2 separate regions of the Homo sapiens genome follow, and region 2 is linked to region 1. The links come from fine-mapping of genetic effects on gene expression. A gene starts in region 1. The other region holds a variant in brackets. All regions are shown on one strand. Distances are between the middles of the regions.

Region 1 (5,376 bases):
AAGACCATTGAAGACTGATCCTTGATGATGTCACTGAGCCACTGAGATCATGAGCCACCACCTCTATTCTTGGTGTTAAGGGAGATTTTAAATCTTCCTATTGTTTAAGCCAATGTTCACTGGGTTTCTATTATTTGCATTTGTTAACACGTCAATCTGCACATGAGTGCTGTATCTCCTGAAGGCTTTCATATTGGGACTATTAACGTGAATGAGTAGAAATAGTCTTGGGTCACACTTTTCCCCAAGAACTTTGTAAATATTGCTTCATTTTCATCTGACATCAAAATCTGAGGCTAGCCAGATTTCTCCTACCATTTCTCTTTGAAGTTCAATAATGTATCCAGGACATTTCCTGATGTTGAGTGTTGTATATCAGTTTTCCCTGGAACACAGTGAGAATTTCTGATCTGCAGATTTAATTCTTTTATTTCAAAAACATTTCTTGTATCTCTGAAAATAGTCTAATGTTGAAGGTCTTTCTTGCAGGAATATCAACTAACCCTTTTTGTAAATTGCTCAGGTGTCTCACTCTTTCCTCTCTACATTTACTGTAATTGAGTCAGGTTTTTCCTCTAAGTCAGTAATTCAGCTGAATTGTGCCTGGTCTATTTCTTGGTTTTTCCAACTTATTTTCTGTATTGCACTACTTCTGTTTTTCTTTTGGTTTCCTTAGCTGTGTAATCTTCCTTCCTTTCTCATTCCATTGTTTTATATTTTCTCCCAGTTCTTATTTTATTACCTTAATGTTCTTATTAGCTTATTCTATAGCATGGAGCACAAGTAAAGATTTTTCTGTTTTGGCAGGGCGCGATGGCTCACGCCAGTAATCCCAGAATTTTGGGAGGCCGAGGCGGGCAGATCTCCTGAGGTCAGGAGTTCCAGACCAGCCTGACTAACATGGTGAAACCCTGTCTCTACTAAAAATACAAAAAATTAGCTGAGCATGGTGGTAGGCGCCTGTAATCCCAGCTACGTGGGAGGCTGAGGCAGGAGAATTGCTTGAACCCGGGAGGTGGAGGTTGCCGTGAGCCGAGATCACACACTGCACTCCAGCCTGGGTGACAGGGGGAGACTCCATCTCAAAACAAACAAACAAAAAAGATTTTTCTGCTTTTATTTATTTGGTTAGATTTTCTCCAGACTTTCTTTCACTTGTCTGGCCTATGTTATAATCCTTTCTTTTCTTCTACTTTTATGAAAGTCTTGGTTTTAGACAGTGGATATGCTGCTTCTTTCTGTCTTATTCCTATTTAACACGTGTTGCTCTTTGAAAATGTTCTGTTTGTTCAAATATAATGTGGGCGAATTCTCTTTGACTGTCTTCTCACTGTATCTGAGTTCCAGAGCTGAGATACTGCACTTTTCTCTGCTTTTCTGGAACCTGAGTACACATTTAGGATAAGGACTGCTCCCTTGAATCCACACAACTTCCAGGCTCTGTGCTCTCTTCTGAGATTTTGATAAGCTCCTTTACCACCATCCTCCCACTCTTGTCACGAGTGTGCCCTATTCCTGTGACAACATGCCCTTTGACTTTGAATCTTTGCCTCAATTCAATGTAGGGACCTAGAAAAAGGCAAGCCCTGGAGATTTCTCCTGTCCCTGCTCAGGTCCTGGGAGCGGTAGGGATTGACCTCCACTCAGGATGGTTTTATCTGGCCGGATTTCCCCAGGTGTTTCCTCGTTCGGCTCACCCTTTCATACCCCTTCTTTTCAGTGTGTGTATTCTTTGCATCAAAAAGCATTAATGAGAATTCTTGGTGTTGTGTCTACTTGGTCTCTGCCCCCTGAAGGGCTTTGGGAGGGTGGAGATGAGGCTGGACACCATTCTCCACGGCAAGCTGCTATTTCACTGAGTTTTTGAAGTTTACGGTACAAGGTTGTACTCAATTTCTCGTCTGAGAAATAATTTGCTCCATTATTTGAAGGCGGTGCGGAGGGCTGGCTTTTACTATGCTTTTGCGCATTTCATTAGTAATGGTGGGGGAGAGGTTTTGTGATCCTGATTATAATTTTTACCTGGATGTCCTCTCCACGCCTTTGACAGCATTAAACCTGGCGTTCCAATAGGAGCTGCAGGGTCTAAAATGTGCAAATAAACCTCAACAGTTACTAAAGTCGAAGAAAGAAGAGCAATGAAAGCCAACACTCATAGCGACTTACGGATAACTGTTAATAGCATCCACACTGCATTTTACATTTACAACGCACCCGCGCCTTAGTTCATACTCATTAAGTCTCCGAAGGGCGCGTCTGCCTAAGTCTTGGGTGCCCAGAATCTAAGTCTGCACTTGGCCCAGAATAGATGCCCAGTAAAGTTCTGAACGAACGACTGTTATACCCAGTTTACAGATGGGAAAACTGAAGACCACCATCATTAAGGGCCTTGCCCAAGGCCGCAGAGCTGACAGTGGATGAAAATGGGGCCAGCAGGAAAGCGGGAAGACGGCCTGGAGGACCACAGGCTAAGTGCTGGGGCCCGGAGCAGGCTCGCCAAGCGGCCGGGCCCCGCGACGGAGCGCTCGGACTCCGACCGGCTCCCACAGCTGCGCCCACCCAGGCCTCCCGCGGTGGCGCAGGCGCGGAATGCGGGGGGCGGGGGGGGGGAGGGGGCAGGCGGAAGGCAATGCGCAGGCGCGGCGTTTCCGTTGCTAGGGCCGCGTCGCGCCCACCTGAGTGGCCGAAGTGAGGTTCGCGAGTCTCTGGGTCGCGACGGGAAGGAGTGAAACACCTCTCTGCGCCTGCGCGCTCCGTGCCTGCGAAGCAAACCCGGCCTCACCTTTTCCTGCCCGAAGCAGAAGATTCTCGCAGTCCTGGTTTCTCCCTCCAGAAGACCCCCCACCCAAATCCTCTGTAGCTCCTGGTAGTGCCCTGACCCCTGCTGCCACCGTCCTTCAGAGAGCAACGGAAGAGCTTCCCGGAGGGCGAGGAAAAGAGGGAAAGTAGCCAGCAATGTCGAACGCGTAAGTGATGGGCTCCCAGCCACAGCCATGGAGTGGGCTTCCCCAAGCCAGAAGGTGGCTTGCTTTCTGCTTCTCTTATTTTCTTTTTTCTTTTCTTTTCTCCTCCCCTCTCAACTTCCCTCCTCTCCCCCACTTTTTTTCCTTTTAGGAAATTCAAATATGCCTCGGGATAGAGTATCTGCTTCTTGTGAGCAAGGAAAATCATACACTTAGATCTCCCCCTCCCCTACGCGTCCCACCACCCCATGGGGATGAGCTCCCAGTCTTCCGTATACCTGCCAAGCCCTTAGGGGCTATTGCTGAGAAGCACTATGCCATTTTGTCTGCTTTTTTTGTTAATCTTTCACGGTAACAAATACGGTGCTTTGTGGAAACACCTAGGTCCTGAAATTTAAGTCTAGAAAGATCTTGGGAAAGCATTATTGACATTTGCTTTTCACAGACTCGAGTGGCATTGGTACTGAAAGAAGTGTGTGCCTAGCACTGTGTCGTTTACACAGCACTTGCACAAAGTTACCTCATTTGGTCTTCGTAAGAATAATTTCCAACAGGTATTACAGCGCTGACCCTGTAGACACTGTTCTAACCGCTTCACAGCAACCCTGTAACGTAGGGGCTGTTAATATTGTTATTTCCATTTTACAGATGAGGGAACTTGGGGATGAAGAGGTGAAGTAGTTCACACAGCAAGTGAACAGTGCCAAGCCGGGCACTGTAGCTCCAGCCTGCACTGTTGCTATTACGTGCCCTGTATTCTAGGCAAGGAAATAAGAGCAGAGAGGTTAAAGGCTTGCCAGGGTTTGGAAATGGGGAAGATCAAGAGTTCTGTTTAAGACGTATTGAGTTGGAAGTGCCCATTGGACATCACGTGGAGATGAAATAGGCAATTAAAATATTCAGATCTTGGGTTCAGGAGCGAGACCCATGTCTGAAATATAAACTTGCTCACTGTCAGCCTGTGATGGTCTTTGTGAGACATAGAATGAATATTAATAAAGAGGTGTAAGGACTGATCCTGGGATCATCCACAGTAAGGCTGGGGGAAGAGGAGACCTGGCAAAGGAATCAAAGACATGATCCATGAGGAAGAAGCGAGTGGAAGAAATAATAGTGTTTCCAGGAGAAGTAACTTCTTTCTCCTCCATCAAGTGCTCCTGAGACAAGTTGGGGTAGAACTGAGAACTGACTGTTGATTTGGCAGTGTGGAGTTCACCAGTGACCTTGACAGGAGCTGATTCAGTGGTATGATGAGATAGAAAGACTTACTCAAGTGAATGTAGGGGGAGAGAAACTATAGATGGTGAGCATAGCTAACTCTTTAAAGGAGTTTTGCTGCAGAGGAAAGGAAATATGTTGGCAGCTAGAGGCAGAGGACATGGCTCCAAGACAGAAAACAATAGAATGTTTGTGTGTGGAAGGGAATGGCCCAGAATGATATAGGAGGAGGAGGGAGAAGTGGGTGACATCGTTGGTAGTGAGAGGACATGGGATCCAGGGGGTGCTGGCCTTAGGTAGAGGAACTCAGCACTTAACAATGGAACAGGTAGGAAGGCAGCATCAAGATGCTATTCAGTGGGTGGGTGCTCTGGAGGTGGCCTGGAACGATCATGGTAGATGGAAGATGATGGTGACTGAGGGGCAGTGGTGACAGCATCAGATGAAATGGGATTCAAAGCCTGGGAGTGTTGGGAGGAGGGAAGGCAAATGTCTGGAGGTGCAGTGAAGAGAAGGGGTCCCCTTGACCCAGCCCCACAGCCAGAGACAGAGGGCTCTGGGGGTAACAGGAGCCTCTACTGAGAGGGCTTCTGAGCAGAGACAGGCCTTCCGTAGAGCAAGAAGGCAGGGGGAGTATTTGGGGAAGAAGACAGCAAACTAGTTAAGATTGGAAGATTCAGAAGGTTTTATCTTGTGCAAAATAACTTGAAAAGAATTCCCATTGTGCAATATTTTGAGTTCCCACGGAAGTGCATATATTCAAGTGAATATTCAAGTGTTTCCCTCCCCTACCCACTCCGTTATAGGAAAACTGCCAAGCTGTAGAAATAACAGTCTGGTCTTTTTAACTGTCATATTCAGTCTTCATCCACAAGCCTCCTGACTTCAAAATCTGTCATATCTCTAAGTCATATGCTCAAGTCTGAAACCAATCATATACTTTCAAAAACTGTTAAGTAGTCTCATGGATAAAATATTACCTTCTGTTTGCAAAGTGCATTTAAAATTCCAGGAACACTTTCACACCTGTTGTTCCATCTGTATTAGTCTGTTCTCACACTGCTAATAAAGACATACCCGAGACTGGGTGATTTATAAAGGAAAGAGGTTTAATTGACTAACAGTTCTGCAGGACTGGGAAGTCCTTAGGAAACTTACAATCATGACAGCAGGTGAAGTCAAACATGCCCTTCTT
Region 2 (5,376 bases), 30 kb before region 1:
GAGTTAATCAAAGTAAAACCTGCTGCTTTTCAAAAGACACCTATAAAAATGAAGAGGCAAGTCAGAGACTGGAGAAAGATATCTGCAAAGGGCTGGTGTCCAGAATATAGAAAGAACCCGTATAACTCAATAAGAAGACACATAACCTAACAAAAAAAAAAACAGACAAAAGACGAACACAAAATTTATTTACATACATGAATGGTCATTAAGCAAATGAAAAGATTTTCAACTGAATTATCATCAGAGAAACACAAATTAGAACCACAATTCTTAGACACTATTTTACAATTACTACAATAACTAAATAAAAACACAGACAACGTCGAGTGTTGGCAAGAATGAGGAACAAGTGGAATACTCACATATTGCTGGCCACAGTGTAAAATGGTACAGCCATTTTGGAAAACTGTTTTGCAGTTTCCTATAAAGTTAAATGTACACTTACTATATGATACAGTTGGCTGTGTCCCCACCCAAATCTCACCTTGAAATGTAATAATCCTCCTGTGTCAAGGACGGGGCAAGGTGGAGATAGTTGAATCATGGGAGCAGTTTTCCCCATTCTGTTCTCATGGTAGTGAATAAATCTCATGAGATCTGATGGTTTTATAAATGGGAGTTCCCCTGCACATGCTCTCTTGCCTGTTGCCATGTAAGACGTCCCTTTGCATCTCCTTTGCCTTCCTCCATGATTGTAAGGCCTCTCCAGCCATGTAGAACTGTGAGTCAGTTAAATCTCTTTCCTTTATAAATTACCCAGTCTCAGAAATGTCTTTATTAGCATCATGAGAACAGACTAATACAATATAAGATCCAGCAATTATACTATTAGGTATTTACCCAAGAAAAATGAAAATAATGGCTGGATGTGGTGGCTCATGCCTGTAATTCCAGCACTTTGGGAGGCCAAGGCGGATGCTCATGCCTATAATCCTAGCATTTTGGGAGGCTGAGGCAGGTGGATCACTTGAGGTTAGGAGTTCGAGACCAGCCAGGGCAACATGGTGAAACCCTACCTCTACTAAAAATACAAAAACTAGCCAGGCGTGGTAGTGAACACCTGTAATCCCAGCTGCTAGGGAGGCTGAGGCAGGAGAATTGCTTGAACCCAGGAGGCAGAGGTTCCAGTGAGCCGAGATCGCACCACTGCACTCCAGCCTGGGTGACAGAGTGAGACTCTGTCTAAAAAACAAAAAAAAAAAAAAAAAAGAAAAGAAAAATGAAAATAATGTTTACACAAAGAGAGAGAGAGAGAGAGAGACACACACACACACACAAATGTGTCTATCAAAACTCATAGAAGTATTATTCACAATAGACAAGAACTGGAAACAACCCAAAGGCCCATCCAGACGTGATAATAAACTGTAGTATTTTCTTACAGTAGAATACTACTCAATAATAAAAAGGAACAAACTACAATAGAGGCAGCAACAGGGATGAATCTCAAAATAATATACCAAGTAAAAGAAGCAAGACACAAAAGAAGGCATACTGCATCATTCCAGCTACATGAAGTCCTAGAACCTGAGAGCACAATCTATAGCCCTGACCAGAAAGGTGAGCCAACACAGCCTGTCCGCGCCTACTTTGCCCTGAGCTAGAGTATCCAGGCTTAGCAAATAAAAATACAGGATGCTCAGCTAAGTTTCAATCTCAGGGAAACCACACATCACTTCTTAGGATAAGAATATCCCAAGCAATATCAGAAATATGCATGACATCTACCTGCATGGAACATACTTATACTGAAAAACTATTCCTTGTTCATCTGAGATTCAATTTTAATTAGGCAGTCTGTATTTTATCTGGCAACCGTGCCTACACTGTAGTTTGCTGTTGGCTTTTTAAGGGCAGGGCAGATATCTACTCATCAAGAGGTCCACTAGACTTGGTCTTACCCCAGCCACTTCTCAGAAGACAGAAAGCAAGCTCTGCCCCGGTCCACCTTAGAACTGCAGCCCCTTTCCATGCTTGGGGCCAGTTTTGCCATTGATTTCTCCAAGGGACTCCTCAGTAGGAGGGTGGGGGTGGCAAGTCTTGCCATCCATCCAAGGTCAGGGTGGTGAGCCCACAGCACCTGGCTTCCGCTGTGGCCACAGACAGAGCCCAATCTCTGACTCGGATGGATCCTTTTGACCACGTTTTTAGTATTTCAAGTTGTGAAAATATATCATCACTGTGTTGCTGTTTCATTTCGGCAATCTGTGTCTGTTCTGCTTTTCTTTTCAGGAGACATCTAAAGCTCCTGTTACTTTGCAGAACACACTCAATAACAGTTAATCAAGTCAGGGATTATGGCCACACAAGGTTTTTAGCAAGTTTCTGAGAAGTCAAATACCAGGTGTGATGTGTGCTAGTATTAACCACGCTGCCCAAGGAAAGGATCTGGCTTATGTATATTGCTTTTCACGCTAGAAAAAAAAAAGAAAACAAAACCTCTTTGAATCAAGACCTGTTAAGAGTTGTTTGGGGAATTATTTTTAAAAGAACTATTCTTTTTGGAATACCTACTTCCAACATAAACACTTTCTTATTAGGTTATTTTTATTTTTCTAGCCTAGCAACTAAAAAAATGTAATCTGCAGAACTGATTGCCTAATAGAAGCACATTTGCTTGCTTGCTTGAAAGAGCATGAATACGCATTAGTGAAAGAAAGAAAACTGAATTTGATAAGAACATTAACCCTTTTGGAGAAAATGCAGACAAAAGTAAAGGCGGTGGAAGAGAGCACGTGGGTGATGAAGCTGGGACACATTTTCCCTCCCTCCAGTTCTTGGAAAATTCCTAATTCTGGCTCATAAGTAATAGT[A/G]GCAAAAAGGTAAAAACATAAAATTAAAGCAGCCACGTAAAGAGGCAAAATTCTTGGGATTTAAGCCATTCAGAAGGACAAGTTGTCCAGGTCTCAATGTGTACAGAGATATCCAAGGGGCCCTGTACCACTTGCATTTATGCCAGGGTGGCCCAATGGAGAACTGCTGTTCAAACTTCAGGGTCATGGATTATTATGACACTAATAAAAATGATGAACCTGCTTCCTAGAAAAAAGCATATGCACCCATGGGCCCATACATTTACAGGCCATTCGAGAGGCTGAGACACTGCCCCAAGCCTATTCATGGAGCCCTGGTAACAATCCTTGTACTAGGCAAAACCAGCCTCCTTACCAGCTTCTGCCTCCTCCTGGCTCATCTCCACCAGCCGCTCACACTTAGGACCAAGGCAGGCTGCCCCTGGGCTTGACCTTGGCCTCCTCCATTCTCCCTGTCAGCAGGTGGCAGCCATCCCATTGCTGGTATTCCTAGAATCCAATCAGGATTAGTAGACCGCTTGCCACAGTGCTACACAGCCAGGTAACACCGTGTTTAACCAAGCAGTGGTGAGAGATTTGGGGCAGGAAAGGGGCTGAGCTTCTGCAATGCAGACAGGCAGCGTGGAGCCTCCCAATACCACTTCCTGCAGGGCCCAGGGCAAGGCCCTTGCTCTCTCTGAGTTTCTGTGTCCTCATCTGTAAATGGGAATAATAACAGTGACTGCCATAGGAGCTGCAAGGAGGATGAGATGATATTATGCATATAAAAGTGCCAGACAGTCTCTAGGCACCTAGAACCCTCAAGGGGCCAGCTGTCATAACTGCCGACAGTTCACATGCGTCTGTGTTTCACTATTAGTTTCACTTCACACCTGCAGAGGGATTTACACACTGCAAGGCATTTCCTTTGGAAATTTATTATTGTAATTCCCTATTAACTCACAATACCCAGGAGATAGGAAATAAATTATTATTCCCATTTTACAGGTGAGAAGACTAAGACTCAGATAGATACGTTAGGTGAGTTGCTTTTCTTGACTCCCAAAGCTGGTACCTTCCCCCGGAATCAGGTCATCTAGCAGAAACCCAGGAATTGAAGGTGATCAATGTTCCCTCCCCCAGATAGAAAGACATGGGTTACCCACAAGCTACAACCAAGTTCATGAACAGTGCAGAAGCCTTTCTTGTTCCCGTCATATCACAGAGCTCTCTGCTTGAACTCAACGTCACGGCTTCTCATCCCACCTTTTACTCCAGCCACTGTGGCAGCAACAAGCTTCCTGCAGGAGGTACCTGTGGGCACCTTTTCTATGACACACGCATGGTGCCCACACAGCCTGGGAATGACTCTGTGTGGCAGCCCTGGACCAAGGGAAGGCATGTACTGGATGACGGCTCCTCCTTCTGTCCTCAGGCAGACCACTCTGAGAGGCAAGTCCCCCCCAGCTCCTCAGTGCCCAGTGGATGGGATCCGGCAGCCCACAGTGGCGGCCAGCCTGAGGAAGCACTGTGGAAGACCTTGCCCTTCTCCCCACTTCACTCTCTCAGCCCTGCTCCTGTTCCCTGATATGAGCTCCCCGAACAAACCCCATCATGCTAGGCCTAATACCTGGGAGGAACCCAGTCTCCAGCAGGAGCCCTTGCTCTTGTCTGTCTCCCTTTCCTCCCACTGCCCTCCCCACCATCCTCTGCACCCACCTCCCTCTGCTGGCCCAGCTAGGGGAGCCTACCGGACACCAAGAAAAACCTGTCTTTATAAAAGCTGCTGTGACTCAGGACTCAGAAGGTCCCCTACTCCACTGGGGCCTATCATGAGGTAGAGAATGGGAGGAGAGAGAGGACCAGGAAAAATAACAAATGCGTACTAGGCTTAATACCTAGGTGATTAAATGATCTGTACCACAAACCCCCCTGACACAAGTTTACCTATGTAACAAACCTGCACATGTACCCCTGAACTTAAAAGTTTAAAAAAAAGGACTCCCCTCCCAAGGGACTGGATCCCAACATCAAAGTTCCATGACTGATTGCCTGACATCAGCACTCCCCTTCCTCTGGAAGGCCCCAGCTTGAGATCCGGGCTTTCTTCCGTCATGGCCAAGCCAACTCTGCGGGGACAGAAGCACTGCTCCTAAACCCCCACCCCAGGGCTTCCGCCTTTCCACCCAAGGCGAGAAGCCAGCAACCTTCCCCAGCTTCCCTCGGATTCCTCCTTCCATGCGTGACCTTGATGGGAGGCCCTGACACTTCAGCCAGGGTAGTCTGGTGCCAATCTTGACTGGAGTCAGACCCACAGGTAGCTGATTTATTGGAGATAGAGTCTTCTTAGCAAGCCTCCACTTTCGGTTGATTCTACACCCAGGGCCTCACACACACCCATGCCTGCCTCATCCTGACCCACGGGTACAACACCAGGTTCATATCTGCCATGTTTGCATCAAGCACACCGCCAAGCTCTGCCTGTGAAACATTAGAAATACAATGAGTAATAACCACAGCATTCCCTGGCCTGGCTCCAAAAACACTGCATTGCTCCAAATCTGCTCCATCCTAGACCCCC

Alleles and levels. Positions count from the first base shown, and alleles are read on the strand shown. Sizes are in standard deviations (SD) of each study's normalised expression.
With allele G in place of A in region 2, the expression in esophagus muscle of the gene that starts at base 2,747 in region 1 is lower (moderate effect, 0.65 SD a copy in GTEx).

What was found. PIP is the estimated chance that this variant, and not a neighbour inherited with it, causes the effect.
Region 2: its variant is fine-mapped to the expression of DRC11 in esophagus muscle (GTEx, PIP 0.90).

The regions. Positions count from the first base shown.
Region 1 is chr2:236,504,847-236,510,222 of GRCh38, reverse strand. DRC11 (dynein regulatory complex subunit 11) reads left to right here and starts at 2,747. Exons shown (of 19, transcript NM_024726.5): 1 at 2,747-2,966. The coding sequence starts at 2,956. RefSeq lists a silencer at 2,572-2,621.
Region 2 is chr2:236,535,143-236,540,518 of GRCh38, reverse strand. It overlaps a transcript of ACKR3 not described here. Among named protein-coding and RNA genes, the nearest start is that of DRC11, 30 kb to the right of the region's middle. RefSeq lists enhancers at 2,256-2,305, 3,409-3,628. The variant A/G (reference allele first, on the strand shown) is at 2,817.